Linked DNA regions of Homo sapiens. The protein of the gene in region 1 purifies or fractionates together with the protein of each later gene. This does not show direct contact. Each region holds a gene or a part of one and is shown on either strand. Other genes may lie near its edges. The genes, in order: FOXJ2, HOXC13 and POU2F2.

Evidence for each region.
Region 2: the proteins of FOXJ2 (region 1) and HOXC13 purify together in Homo sapiens (affinity purification with mass spectrometry; one large-scale study listed by BioGRID and IntAct). This does not show direct contact.
Region 3: the proteins of FOXJ2 (region 1) and POU2F2 purify together in Homo sapiens (affinity purification with mass spectrometry; one large-scale study listed by BioGRID and IntAct). This does not show direct contact.

Annotation. Positions count from the first base shown.
Region 1 is NC_000012.12:8,046,129-8,049,776, forward strand, and holds part of FOXJ2 (forkhead box protein J2), read left to right. Parts: intron 1-1,753; coding exon 1,754-2,161; intron 2,162-2,568; coding exon 2,569-2,670; intron 2,671-3,233; coding exon 3,234-3,443; intron 3,444-3,648.
Region 2 is NC_000012.12:53,937,320-53,941,067, forward strand, and holds the start of HOXC13 (homeobox protein Hox-C13), read left to right. Parts: upstream 1-1,511; 5' UTR 1,512-1,587; coding exon 1,588-2,323; exon of another isoform or gene 2,324-2,324; intron 2,325-3,748. UniProt on the Homo sapiens protein: Transcription factor which plays a role in hair follicle differentiation. Regulates FOXQ1 expression and that of other hair-specific genes.
Region 3 is NC_000019.10:42,097,848-42,101,495, forward strand, and holds part of POU2F2 (POU domain, class 2, transcription factor 2), read right to left. Parts: intron 1,975-3,648; coding exon 1,869-1,974; intron 1,772-1,868; coding exon 1,680-1,771; intron 1-1,679. UniProt on the Homo sapiens protein: Transcription factor that specifically binds to the octamer motif (5'-ATTTGCAT-3'). Regulates IL6 expression in B cells with POU2AF1. Regulates transcription in a number of tissues in addition to activating immunoglobulin gene expression.

The DNA.
Region 1 (3,648 bases):
CCAGGACTAAGGGCAGTGATTTTAGGGCTGCAAGTGAGTCATTTGGAGGACGACCACGAGGGGGCAGCAGCAGTACCCTCTCCTGAAGAATCCCTGCGTTTCATTGTGAGAACAGTTTCTTTTTAGTGTATTTACATTTATGTTACTTTTATTGTGAAAAATTGCAAACAGATGCAAAAGTGTGGAGAAAAATATAATAAACCCCTGTGTTCCATCCCCCAACTTTAAGTTATCAGTATTTTATTAGGCTTGTTTTGTTTACCACTGAGCCTTCTAAAAATTGGAGTAATTTAATGGAATTCACATATACCATGTCATTCCACTCATAAATACAACTTCGATATACACCTCTAAATGATGACTTTCTTCTAGTTATCTACCATGACATTATCATTCCTAACATAATTGATAATACATCCTTAATATCAGCTAGTATCTTGTCCGTGCACATTTTCCTAATTATCATATGAGAATGACTTAAAGTTTTTACTGGGAGGCCCCTTGAGAGAACATCTGGTTCGGCCCTCTGCAATATCTGTGTGTTCGTTTTTTAAATAACTTAGAGACAGTGGTGAAGTTGATTTCAGGTGAGGCATTAGACCTTCTCATTCTGTGCAGTAGCCCTATGTTGGCAGCAGGGGCTGAATGGAATGATAAAAACTGGTTAGGAGTCACTTTTTGGAAAACTTATATTCATTTTCATGAATTTCTTCTTGTATATCACAGGGGATCAATTCCTAGAGTAGTGTCCAAGACTGTAGCATTTGCTCAAAAAATGAATCCGACTCAGGTGGTTGGTTGATTGGAGGAGGGAACATGAGAAACTGTCAGAAATAAAGTAAAAAATTAGATTGGGTGAGGACAGCCTAGAGTTCACTCAAGTTTTATTGTGACCGAAAGCCCCTAGTCTCAGACTTTTGTTCTTCCCAGCCTGTCTGCTTGAGAAATAACTCCATCCTGTCTCTGCTCCTTACCCAAGCTACATTTGTTTATAGAGGGTACAGGAATGACTTGGCAGTAGCAGAGTGTAGAGAAAATAAGGGGCCGGTCGTGGTGTCTCATGCCTGTAATCCCAGCACTTTGGAAGGCCAAAGTGGGCGGATCACCTGAAGTCAGGAGCTCGAGACCAGCCTCAACATGGAGAAACCCCGTCTCTACTAAAAATACAAAATTAGCCAGGCGTGGTGGTACACACCTGTAGTCTCAGCTACTCGGGAGGCTGAGGCAGGAGAATTGCTTGAACCTGGGAGGCGGAGGTTGCGGTGAGCCGAGATCGCACCATTGCACTCCAGCCTGGGCAACAAGAGCGAAACTCTGTCTCAAAAAACAAAAAACGGAAGGAAGAGGAGATAGTAGACAACTGATGGCTTTGTTTTGTTTCTGATTTACTTTTTTTTTTTTCCCTAAACACTAGATGACCAGGGATGGTTTCCTTTTTAAAGTTCACCTGCTGGGAAACTGTGATTTCAGGCCTTCAGCCAAATCCCTAAAAAGTAGCATTAAATGCTACACACTGACCTTTTTAGTAAGATTTCAGTGGTCTCCACACTGTCAGGGCCCTCCTCTAACCTAAGTGCCTTCCTGTCTCTTGTACCTGCCAGGAGGGCCACAGGGATCTTTGCTGCCCTAGAATGTTCTTACCCTTTTAACTCCACAGTTTTAGTCTGAGGCTTCCCATCTCAACCCAGGGAAAATCCCATTTTGTGAAAAATGCATTGCTTAAGTCACTTGCCTGCTTCCTCCCCACCTGCAGGCTTTTCTTCTCTCCTGGGGGACATCCCACCCTCGAACAACTACTACATGTATCAGCAGCAGCAGCCACCGCCACCTCAACAGCAGCAGCAGCAGCAGCAGCCGCCACAGCCACCTCCCCAGCAGTCCCAGCCACAGCAGCAGCAGGCACCTGCCCAGGGCCCCTCAGCTGTAGGGGGTGCTCCTCCACTGCACACCCCAAGCACAGATGGTTGTACCCCACCAGGGGGAAAGCAAGCTGGGGCGGAAGGCTATGGGCCTCCCCCTGTAATGGCCATGCATCCACCCCCGCTGCAGCATGGAGGCTACCACCCTCATCAGCACCATCCCCACTCCCACCCTGCCCAGCAGCCACCACCTCCACAGCCACAGGCACAAGGCCAGGCTCCCATCAACAACACTGGCTTTGGTGAGTAAGGAGGGTGCACAGTGATCTAGAGGAGGGTGGGGTGATGTCCTTGTCCTAACACCGGCATGGAGGTGCAGTTAGTTAGGAAGTTAATGATGGGTCTTTTAGGCTTCGCTCCTTCATGTGAGCTAATCTGAACAAAGTTACTACTTAGAGCTCTGTCTTATAGAATTCCTGGATCAATTGAGATTGTTTTACATATTCTCCTGACTATGAGCCTGGCTGTACTTAAAGCGTAGCTAGCTTTTCCAGTCCTAAACTCCCAGGGAGGGAGAGTCCAAAACTTGGAAATGCAACTGCTAATCTGTATAGATGCAAGAATCTTGCATGTAGTCAGCCTGGTATCAGTTGACTGCTGTCTTACACTTCACTCTATCTTATTATCCACTTTCCCCTCCTCTTTACAGCCTTTCCTTCTGACTGGTGCTCTAATATTGACTCTTTAAAGGAAAGCTTCAAGATGGTGAATCGGCTCAATTGGTCCAGCATTGAGCAGTCACAATTCTCAGGTTAGTGATCAAAGGACGAAGGAAGAGAGGGATACACTGTAAGGGAAAACCCAGTAGAAACTGGAACCGGAAGGGGGTGGTTAAATGAAGTTGCAGAAATGAGGATTTCATTGTTTTTCTTTCTTTTTACACAAGATGGATCATATTTACATTATTTTCAAATTAACTCAAATTAATCTTGTCTTAACTGAAAATGTGGCAGTGAATAATCCTAGTCCATTCTGTCTTTGGGAGGGAGAAGGCCCTCAGGAATTTAGAGACCGTGGACCACGATTTTGTAGTTTTGTCACCACTCACTGACAGTGTGACCTTGGCTGAGTCACTCAGTCACATTGAAAGTTTATCTTACTCATCAGTAAGATGGCAATTATAAGAATTTGGTAAGGGATCAAATAGAATGAGAGTTTGAAAATGCAGAGCTCTGAAAGATATAAATTGTTATTGTTAGTGCCCGTTATCAGTGGGGGTGATTGATGGTGTGTTTGGAACAGTGAGATAGGGCGGGGTCTGATAGGGGCTTCCTACCTCTGCAAGGTTTGCATTGCTTGCTTCCCTCTTTGTAGAACTGATGGAGAGTCTACGACAGGCAGAGCAGAAGAACTGGACCCTCGACCAGCATCACATTGCCAATCTGTGTGACTCCCTCAACCACTTCCTTACTCAGACTGGTCACGTGCCCCCTCAAGGGGGTACCCACCGCCCACCAGCCCCTGCCCGTATTGCTGACTCCTGTGCCCTCACCAGTGGCAAACAGGAGTCAGCCATGAGCCAAGGTACTGCACCAAGCCAGTTGCCATGGAGGTGGAGACTATGTTGAAAAGGAAGCATAGGAGAAAGGCAAAAGAGAACTGAGAGAAAGGATTTTATGGGGCAGTGACCCAAATTGAGCAGTGGAACTAGTTTATCAGTTGACTGAATATCTGTTGAATCAGTGAAGTCCTAAACTGAAAAATGCAAAAGAAATAGACTGTATGATTC
Region 2 (3,748 bases), about 46 Mb from region 1:
TGTGCGCTGGCTGCACACGAGCACTCAGCATTTAAAACCTGTGGCAGAGGGAGGAAAGAAGGAAACGCTGCAGCCCCTTTCCCCTCTTATTTTTCTCTCTTCATTACGATTTCTCAGGGAGGTCCTGTGCTGAAAGGGAACTTGACTCAATTCCACGGAGATGCTCCCTTAGAAAGGGGTGACTCTATTGAGGCTCCTGACAAGTTGGGAGATTGGGAGGAAAGAAGGGAGAGCTTTTGAAGAATCAGTAAGTTGGTGTTAATTTTTTCTTTGAAATAGGGGGCAGTTTTAGATCATGAAACTATTCCTCACTAAAAGAGGGTGACCTAAGAAAGCCGTGGGAGCTCCATTGCGGGTATTCAAACTGGGGACTGTGTCATGTGGCTTAACCCAGGCCCCTGAGGGCAGAGGTGGGTTCTGCAGGGTCCCCCAGAGTGGCGCCAGAGAGAGGTCCCTCCAAAGGTGTAGCACTGAATCTCCCCCATTTTCCACGTTTTCTTTTGTATACCTATAGAAAGCGCGCTCTCCTTCGCATCCAGGGCTTTTAGCTTTCCCAGGCTGAATCTTGCGCCCCCACCACCCGCATTTCTTTGAAAAACCTCACTCTGAGATTTTTTATTTCTATTACATATTGAAATATCAGTCTATTCTATTGCTTTTATTTCCCTCGTTTTATTCTTTCTCCATTTATTGCCGAGTATATTCCATTGCCTCTCGATCCCCTGCCCCAGGTGATGAATTCTGTATTTGGGGGTTGTCACACCCCTCTCCGCTTGAGAAAAATCCAGCGAGGTAAAGCAGAGTGTCCTTTTCAGACATCTAGAGTTTTGGGGAATGTGGCTGAAGGTAGGAAATGGAAACACAATCCCGGCATCAAAGGCTCGCTACGCAGCATCGGGTTCTTTCCAGCCGCGAGCGGAGGCGAGCTGCCAGGGCCAGAGCGCTCCTGACTGTTTTCTATTATCTTCATTTATTATTTTTTAAAACCTGGTTTCTTCCCCACCCTTAGCTTCAAGCCCCAATCCAGAGACTTCAGCAGTCACAGTGATCGGCTTGGCGGTAGGGGGTCTGTCTCTCCGGTGCACATCCTATGCCTAGGCGGAGGCGCCCAGTTACAGCGCTCTCCTCCCTACACCCCTTTGCGTCGGCCAAATTCAGCCTCCCCCCCCTCCCTCTCCCTCCCTGGGGCCTGCCGGGGGCGTCTCCCTGTCCCTTTAAATCTCCCAGCTCCCGCCTCCTTTGGCCTACCTGAGATCCAATCAGCACAGACTTTTTCCCTTTCGCCCCGCCCCACCTCGAGGGGAGGGAACCCCAGGAGACCTGGCCGGGGCATCACGTGCGCAGAGCGGGTCACGTGGGCGCGGGAGGGGTGCTGAGAGGTGGAGAGCGGGAGCCGGCGGATTTCTTAATGAAGTGTCTCCGCATGCGTAGAGGGAATGTAGGGAGGGAGGTGGAAGCACTAGGAGGAGGGGAGGGGTGGAGAGAAAAGAGGGGAGGGATGGGGGGAGGGGAAACAGGAGCGAGGTGTCTCCCTAGCTCGCTGCCTCTGGCAAGTGGAGTTTTTAAAAAGCTCCAGCAGATCATGTCATGACGACTTCGCTGCTCCTGCATCCACGCTGGCCGGAGAGCCTTATGTACGTCTATGAGGACAGCGCGGCGGAGAGCGGCATCGGCGGCGGCGGCGGAGGAGGAGGCGGCGGCACGGGCGGAGCGGGGGGTGGCTGCAGCGGAGCGAGCCCCGGCAAAGCCCCGAGCATGGATGGTCTGGGCAGCAGCTGCCCGGCCAGCCACTGCCGCGACCTGCTTCCGCACCCCGTGCTGGGCCGCCCGCCGGCTCCCCTGGGCGCCCCTCAGGGCGCCGTCTATACGGACATCCCGGCCCCGGAGGCGGCGCGCCAGTGTGCCCCGCCGCCCGCACCCCCCACCTCGTCCAGCGCCACCCTGGGCTACGGCTACCCCTTCGGGGGCAGCTACTACGGCTGCCGCCTGTCGCACAACGTGAACCTGCAGCAGAAGCCTTGCGCCTACCACCCGGGCGATAAATACCCGGAGCCGTCGGGCGCCCTGCCCGGTGACGACCTGTCCTCTAGGGCCAAGGAGTTCGCCTTCTACCCCAGCTTCGCCAGCTCCTACCAGGCGATGCCCGGCTACCTGGACGTGTCGGTGGTGCCCGGGATCAGCGGGCACCCGGAGCCGCGTCACGACGCCCTCATCCCCGTCGAAGGCTACCAGCACTGGGCTCTCTCCAATGGCTGGGACAGTCAGGTGTACTGCTCCAAGGAGCAGTCGCAGTCCGCCCACCTCTGGAAGTCTCCCTTCCCAGGTAAGGAAGGGACCCGAGCGCCGCCGCCGCCGGGGACCCCTCCCCGCCCTGCCTGCCCCGGGGCTCCGCGCCCCAACCACCCCCGCCGTCTGGCCCCGGCGCGCCCGCTCGGCTGGGCTGCCTATGGAGCCGGCCGGGCGAGCTGCACTGAGGAATGCGCCGGGGAAGAAATCTGCTCCGACACGTTCTCTGTAGCTGCCCGGCCGAGAATGAAGCAATCACAGGCGCCCGAAAGCCGGGCCGCCGGCTCTGCTCTGTCCGGTAGCTCGCCTCCGCCTCCCCTTGCAGGCTCCAGCCTCCCGCCGGGCTCTTGGCCCCTAAACCTGCTTCCGGCAAGGGATGGGGGCGGGGTGGGCCTATAGTGCCTTGGAATCCAGGACAAAACCCCCAACCCACCGAATAACTGGGGAGGGCGGAGAATAAGAACCCCCACTTTCTTTGACAGAATTCGCAGGATCGTTCAGGCACTAGACAGTATTTTTTAAATAGGGGACTAATTTGCTGGGGTCTACAGAAATGTGAGATTTATTTTTTTCCTTTCCTGACTTATTTTAAAAATCTGGCCACGAATTTCCTGATTGTTGAGGGAACAGAAGATCCAAAATCTCTGGAGAGGGAGTGGAGAGGAGGCTAGAATCCCTCCCCAGCATTGTAAAGTTTTCCTTGCCTCTTTGGTATATTGAGCTCAAACCTATAGACATTTCCACTGCCAACTCCCCCATATGTGGTCGAGAAAGAGAGTTAGTTATTGGTGCCCCAGACACAGAAAGAAGGGCGTGGGGATGAGAAATGGGAGAGGAAGACCTGTTCAAGACCTGTTCAGGGGCTTCTGGAGTCCAGACCCAGGCTGGGGACCCCTTGGTCTTGTCTGGCTAAGGATGGGAAGGGAGAATTCATTCCCCTCTTGTTCCGTCTCCAGTTGAAGAGAGAAAGGCTCCTGTAAATCCCACCGCTCTCCTTGCGGACAAGACCAGTCCCAGGTTTCCCAAAACCACACCAAGAGCTTTGGATCCTGCCTTGTGCTGAGAAATCAGGATTCCGGTCTAGGGAGTCCAGCATTTGAGTCTGTTCTCCCTGTAAGCAGAGCTCAGTGGGAGAGCGTTCTCCCTTCTGATACCTACAGAGGTCTTTGGGGGTGGGGGGCCCAGGGCAGCCACAGATGTCTCCCGACAGTGCCCAGCTCCCCGACCAGCTCCACGTGCCAAGCTCAGGGATGTTTTCCTTGGAAAGCATAGACCCAAAGACCTCCTAAGGGTGGGCCTGAAATTCCTCTGCATACGGAATTGGAAGAAGAGGTAGGTGGTTTAAAAAAAAATACTGAGTGATATTAGAGAGTGTAGCAAATAACATTCTTGTGAATATTATGAAATTACTTAGTATAACACAACTCAATACCAGGGTATGACCTACACTAGGCACCCTGAC
Region 3 (3,648 bases), on another chromosome or scaffold:
GTTACACAAATGTATTGTGTAGTGATGAAGCGTAGGCTTTTAGTGTATCCATCACCCAAACAGTGTACATTGTACCCATTAAGTAATTTCTCATCATCCACCCACTCTCACCCCTCTCAGGTTTTGTTGTTGTTGTTGTTTTAGAGACCAGTCTTGCTATGTTGCCCAGGCTGGCCTCAAACTCCTGGGCTCAAGTGATCCTCTTGCCTCAGGCTCACAAGTAGCTGAGACTATAGGCATGCACCACCGTGCCTGTTTCAGTTTTCAGAAAACCTACATAGGCAGCCAGGCACAGTGGCTCATGCCTGTAATCCGAGCACTTTAGGAGGCCGAGGCAGGTGGATCACCTGAAGTCAGGAGTTCGAGACCAGCCTGGCCAACATGGTGAAACCCCATCTCTATTAAAAATACAAAAATTAGCTGGGTGTGGTGGCGCATGCTTGTAATCCCAGCTACTTGGGAGGCTGAGGTAGGAGAATCGCTTGAACCTGGGAGGCAGAGGGTGCAGTGAACTGATATTGAGCCAATGCACTCCAGCCTGGGCAACAGAGCGAGACTCCATCTCAAAAAAAAAAAAAAAAACAAAAAGAAAGAAAGCCTACATAGGATGTATATCATAGATAATGTGGCCCGGCCCCCACCCCCACTAGGGTCAAGAATATTACTCCTTAATCAGATACAGTAACAGTTTTGCAGCAGCAAAAATGCCATACCAAGAGGGACAAAGAAAAGTCATACACTGGCTTATATCATGGCAGGGCAGGTTTTGCAGTCAAATGAGTTCTCATGCCAATGGTGGAAGAACAACTTGACTTTCTGAGCATTTGGGATTTCAGAACTGCAGTTAAGACCTGTATTAGTCTCTAACTCTTCAGTCAGTCCTTCTGAAATAGTTCACATATATTTTTTTAAAGGGCTATAAAAAATGGGTAGAAAAAAACTTTGAAATTCATAAAAGGTAGTGAAAATTATCATTAAAGTCTAGAACTCAGGCAGCAAACTGAAAGAAAGGCCTCGGGGTCCAGGTGCCAAGGTGGCCTGGAGAGCTGGCACCCTCTCTAAGGGGCCTCTGCTCCTGCCAGTGGCCAGGCCAACTGCTCACTGCGCCAAGCCACCACGTAGACACAGGTACAGCCCTGCCAGATTTTCTGGTTTATCAAGAGGAGCTGGAAATGTGGTGCTTTCTGGGAATTTAGTTGACAATGACCAAATAAAAGACACCTGTGGGCCTTGTTTTCAGTCTCCAGTCTGGGAAGTGGATGTGAAATAATCACCTAACGAATGCCTTGTTCAGAGAATCCTCCGTTGCAGTGCTGGAAGAGGCCCGAGGCATTTGCAGCCTAAAGGCTTGCAGCCCCTTGCAATTTTGTGTGTTTTTACACATGAGCATTTTGGGGGAATGGGGATCAGATCTAAATCTTTCATCATATTCTCAAAGGAGCTCATGTACTAGAAAGGGTTAAGAACCACTTGTCTGGGCCAGCTCCCCTCATTCTATAGAGGAAGAGGCTGACCCAGACAGGGAGATGGGCTTGCCTGAGGTCTCACAGCAAATCACTGGCAGAGTGTGGCTGGGTCAAATGGAAAGGAGACTCTCACTCATCCCCCACCCCCGTTTACCCAGCTTTCAGCAGGCCTTGCTGCTGGCCTGGCCTGGTGCACTCAATGGACAGTCTCACCTGTGTGGGAAGCCCGGCCCGGGGCTGGGAGGTCAGAAGAGCTCCCTGGGTTTGCTGAGGTAGCTGGAATAGATTTGGTGTCGGTAGCAGGCCTGGAAAGACAAGGGGAAATACACAGGGTGAGGGGGAGGGGAAGGTGAGGAAGTTCTGTGGAGGCGTCAGGGAGGCCATCTGGGGTGGGGGCCTTACCTGGCTGGCTCTGCTGGGCCTGCGGTAGCAGGAACTGAGCAGGTGGCTGGAGGTGGTGGCCTGGCACAAGCACCAGCTGCTGGAGCTGGAGGAGCTGCTGTATGTCCTGGCAGGGAGTGGGGTGGACAGAAAGATAGCCTGAGTCCTGGCTGGGTTTCATCCTCTCTGCATCACCTGAACCTTGAGGGGCTGAAACCAGGAAGCTGCTCCACATGGCGATCTGGCACTGGGCAGTGAGGGATCGTCCACTCGGTCTCTGAATGGCATCCCTGAGCTAAGGGCACCCAGAGGCTTCTCTCTACCATGGGGTACCAGAGAGTCCCAACTGGGCAGTCCTGGGAGGGCTCACTCTTTATTTACCCTTTCTTTCTTTTTTTTTTTTTTTTTTTTTTTTTTTTTTGAGTCTCGCTCTGTCGCCCAGGCTGGAGTGCAGTGGTGTGATCTCGGCTCACTGAAATCTCCGCCTCCTGGGTTCACGCCATTCTCCTACCTCAGCCTCCCAAGTAGCTGGGACTACAGGTGCCCGCCACCACTCCCAGCTAATTTTTTGTATTTTTAGTAGAGACAGTTTCACCATGATAGCCAGGATGGTCTCAATCTCCTGACCTTGTGATCTGTCCGCCTTGGCCTCCCAAAGTGCTGGGATTACAGGCGTGAGTCACCGAACCCGGCTACCCTTTCTTTCTTGATGAAATATTTTCCTTGTTTTAACATTTCCGCAGAACAAATAGAATCATTTAAAAATGTAAGCCAGGCCGGGTGTGGTGACTCATGCCTGTAATCCCAGCAATTTGGGAGGCTGAGGCAGGCGGACACACCTGAGGCCAGGCGTTTAACACCAGCCTGGCCAACATGGCAAAATCTCGTCTCTACTAAAAATACAAAATTAGCCAGGTGTGGTGGTACACGCCTGTAGTCCCAGCTACTCCGGAGGCTGATGCAGGAGAATTGCTTGAACCTAGGAGGCATAGGTTGCAGTGAGCCGAGATCACGCCCCTTCACTCCAACCTGGGTGACAGAGCAAGACTCTGTCTCAAAAATAAATAAATAAATAATAAAATTGTAAACCAGACCAGGTCTTTCCTCCTTTAAAAACACTCCTGGCTGGGCACGGTGGCTCACACCTGTAATCCCAGCAATTTGGGAGGCCGAGCCAGGCGGATCACGAGGTCAGGAGATCGAGACCATCCTGGCTAACACAGTGAAACCCTGTCTCTACTAAAAATACAAACAATTAGCCAGGCATGGTGGCACACACTTGTAGTCCCAGCTACTCAGGAGGCTGAGGCAGGAGAATCGCTTGAACCCGGAGGCGGAGATTGCAATGAGCTGAGATCATGCCACTGTGTCTCTGCACTGCAGCCTGGGTGACAGAGCAAGACTCTGTCTCAAAAAACACAACAAAACAAACAAACAAAAAACACTCCCAAGGCAAATGATTTCATGTCTGGAATTAGCTTTAAAATACTCCAGCAAATAGTGTAAATTAGTACAACCACTCCGGGAAGCTCTTTAGCACTGTTATAGGTTGCAGTGTCTCCCCCCACTCCCTGCCACCCCCCAAAAAGGTAAGTTGGAATCCTAACCCCCAGAACCTCAGAGATTAACCCTATTTGGAGATAGGGTCTTTGGCAGATGATCAAGTTAAAATGAGGTCATTAGGGTGGGCTCTAATCCTATATGACTTGTGTCCTTATAAAAAGGGCAAATTTGGACATAGACATGGATAACGGGAAGATGATGTGAAGAGACACAGGGAAAAGACAGCCACGTGCAAGCC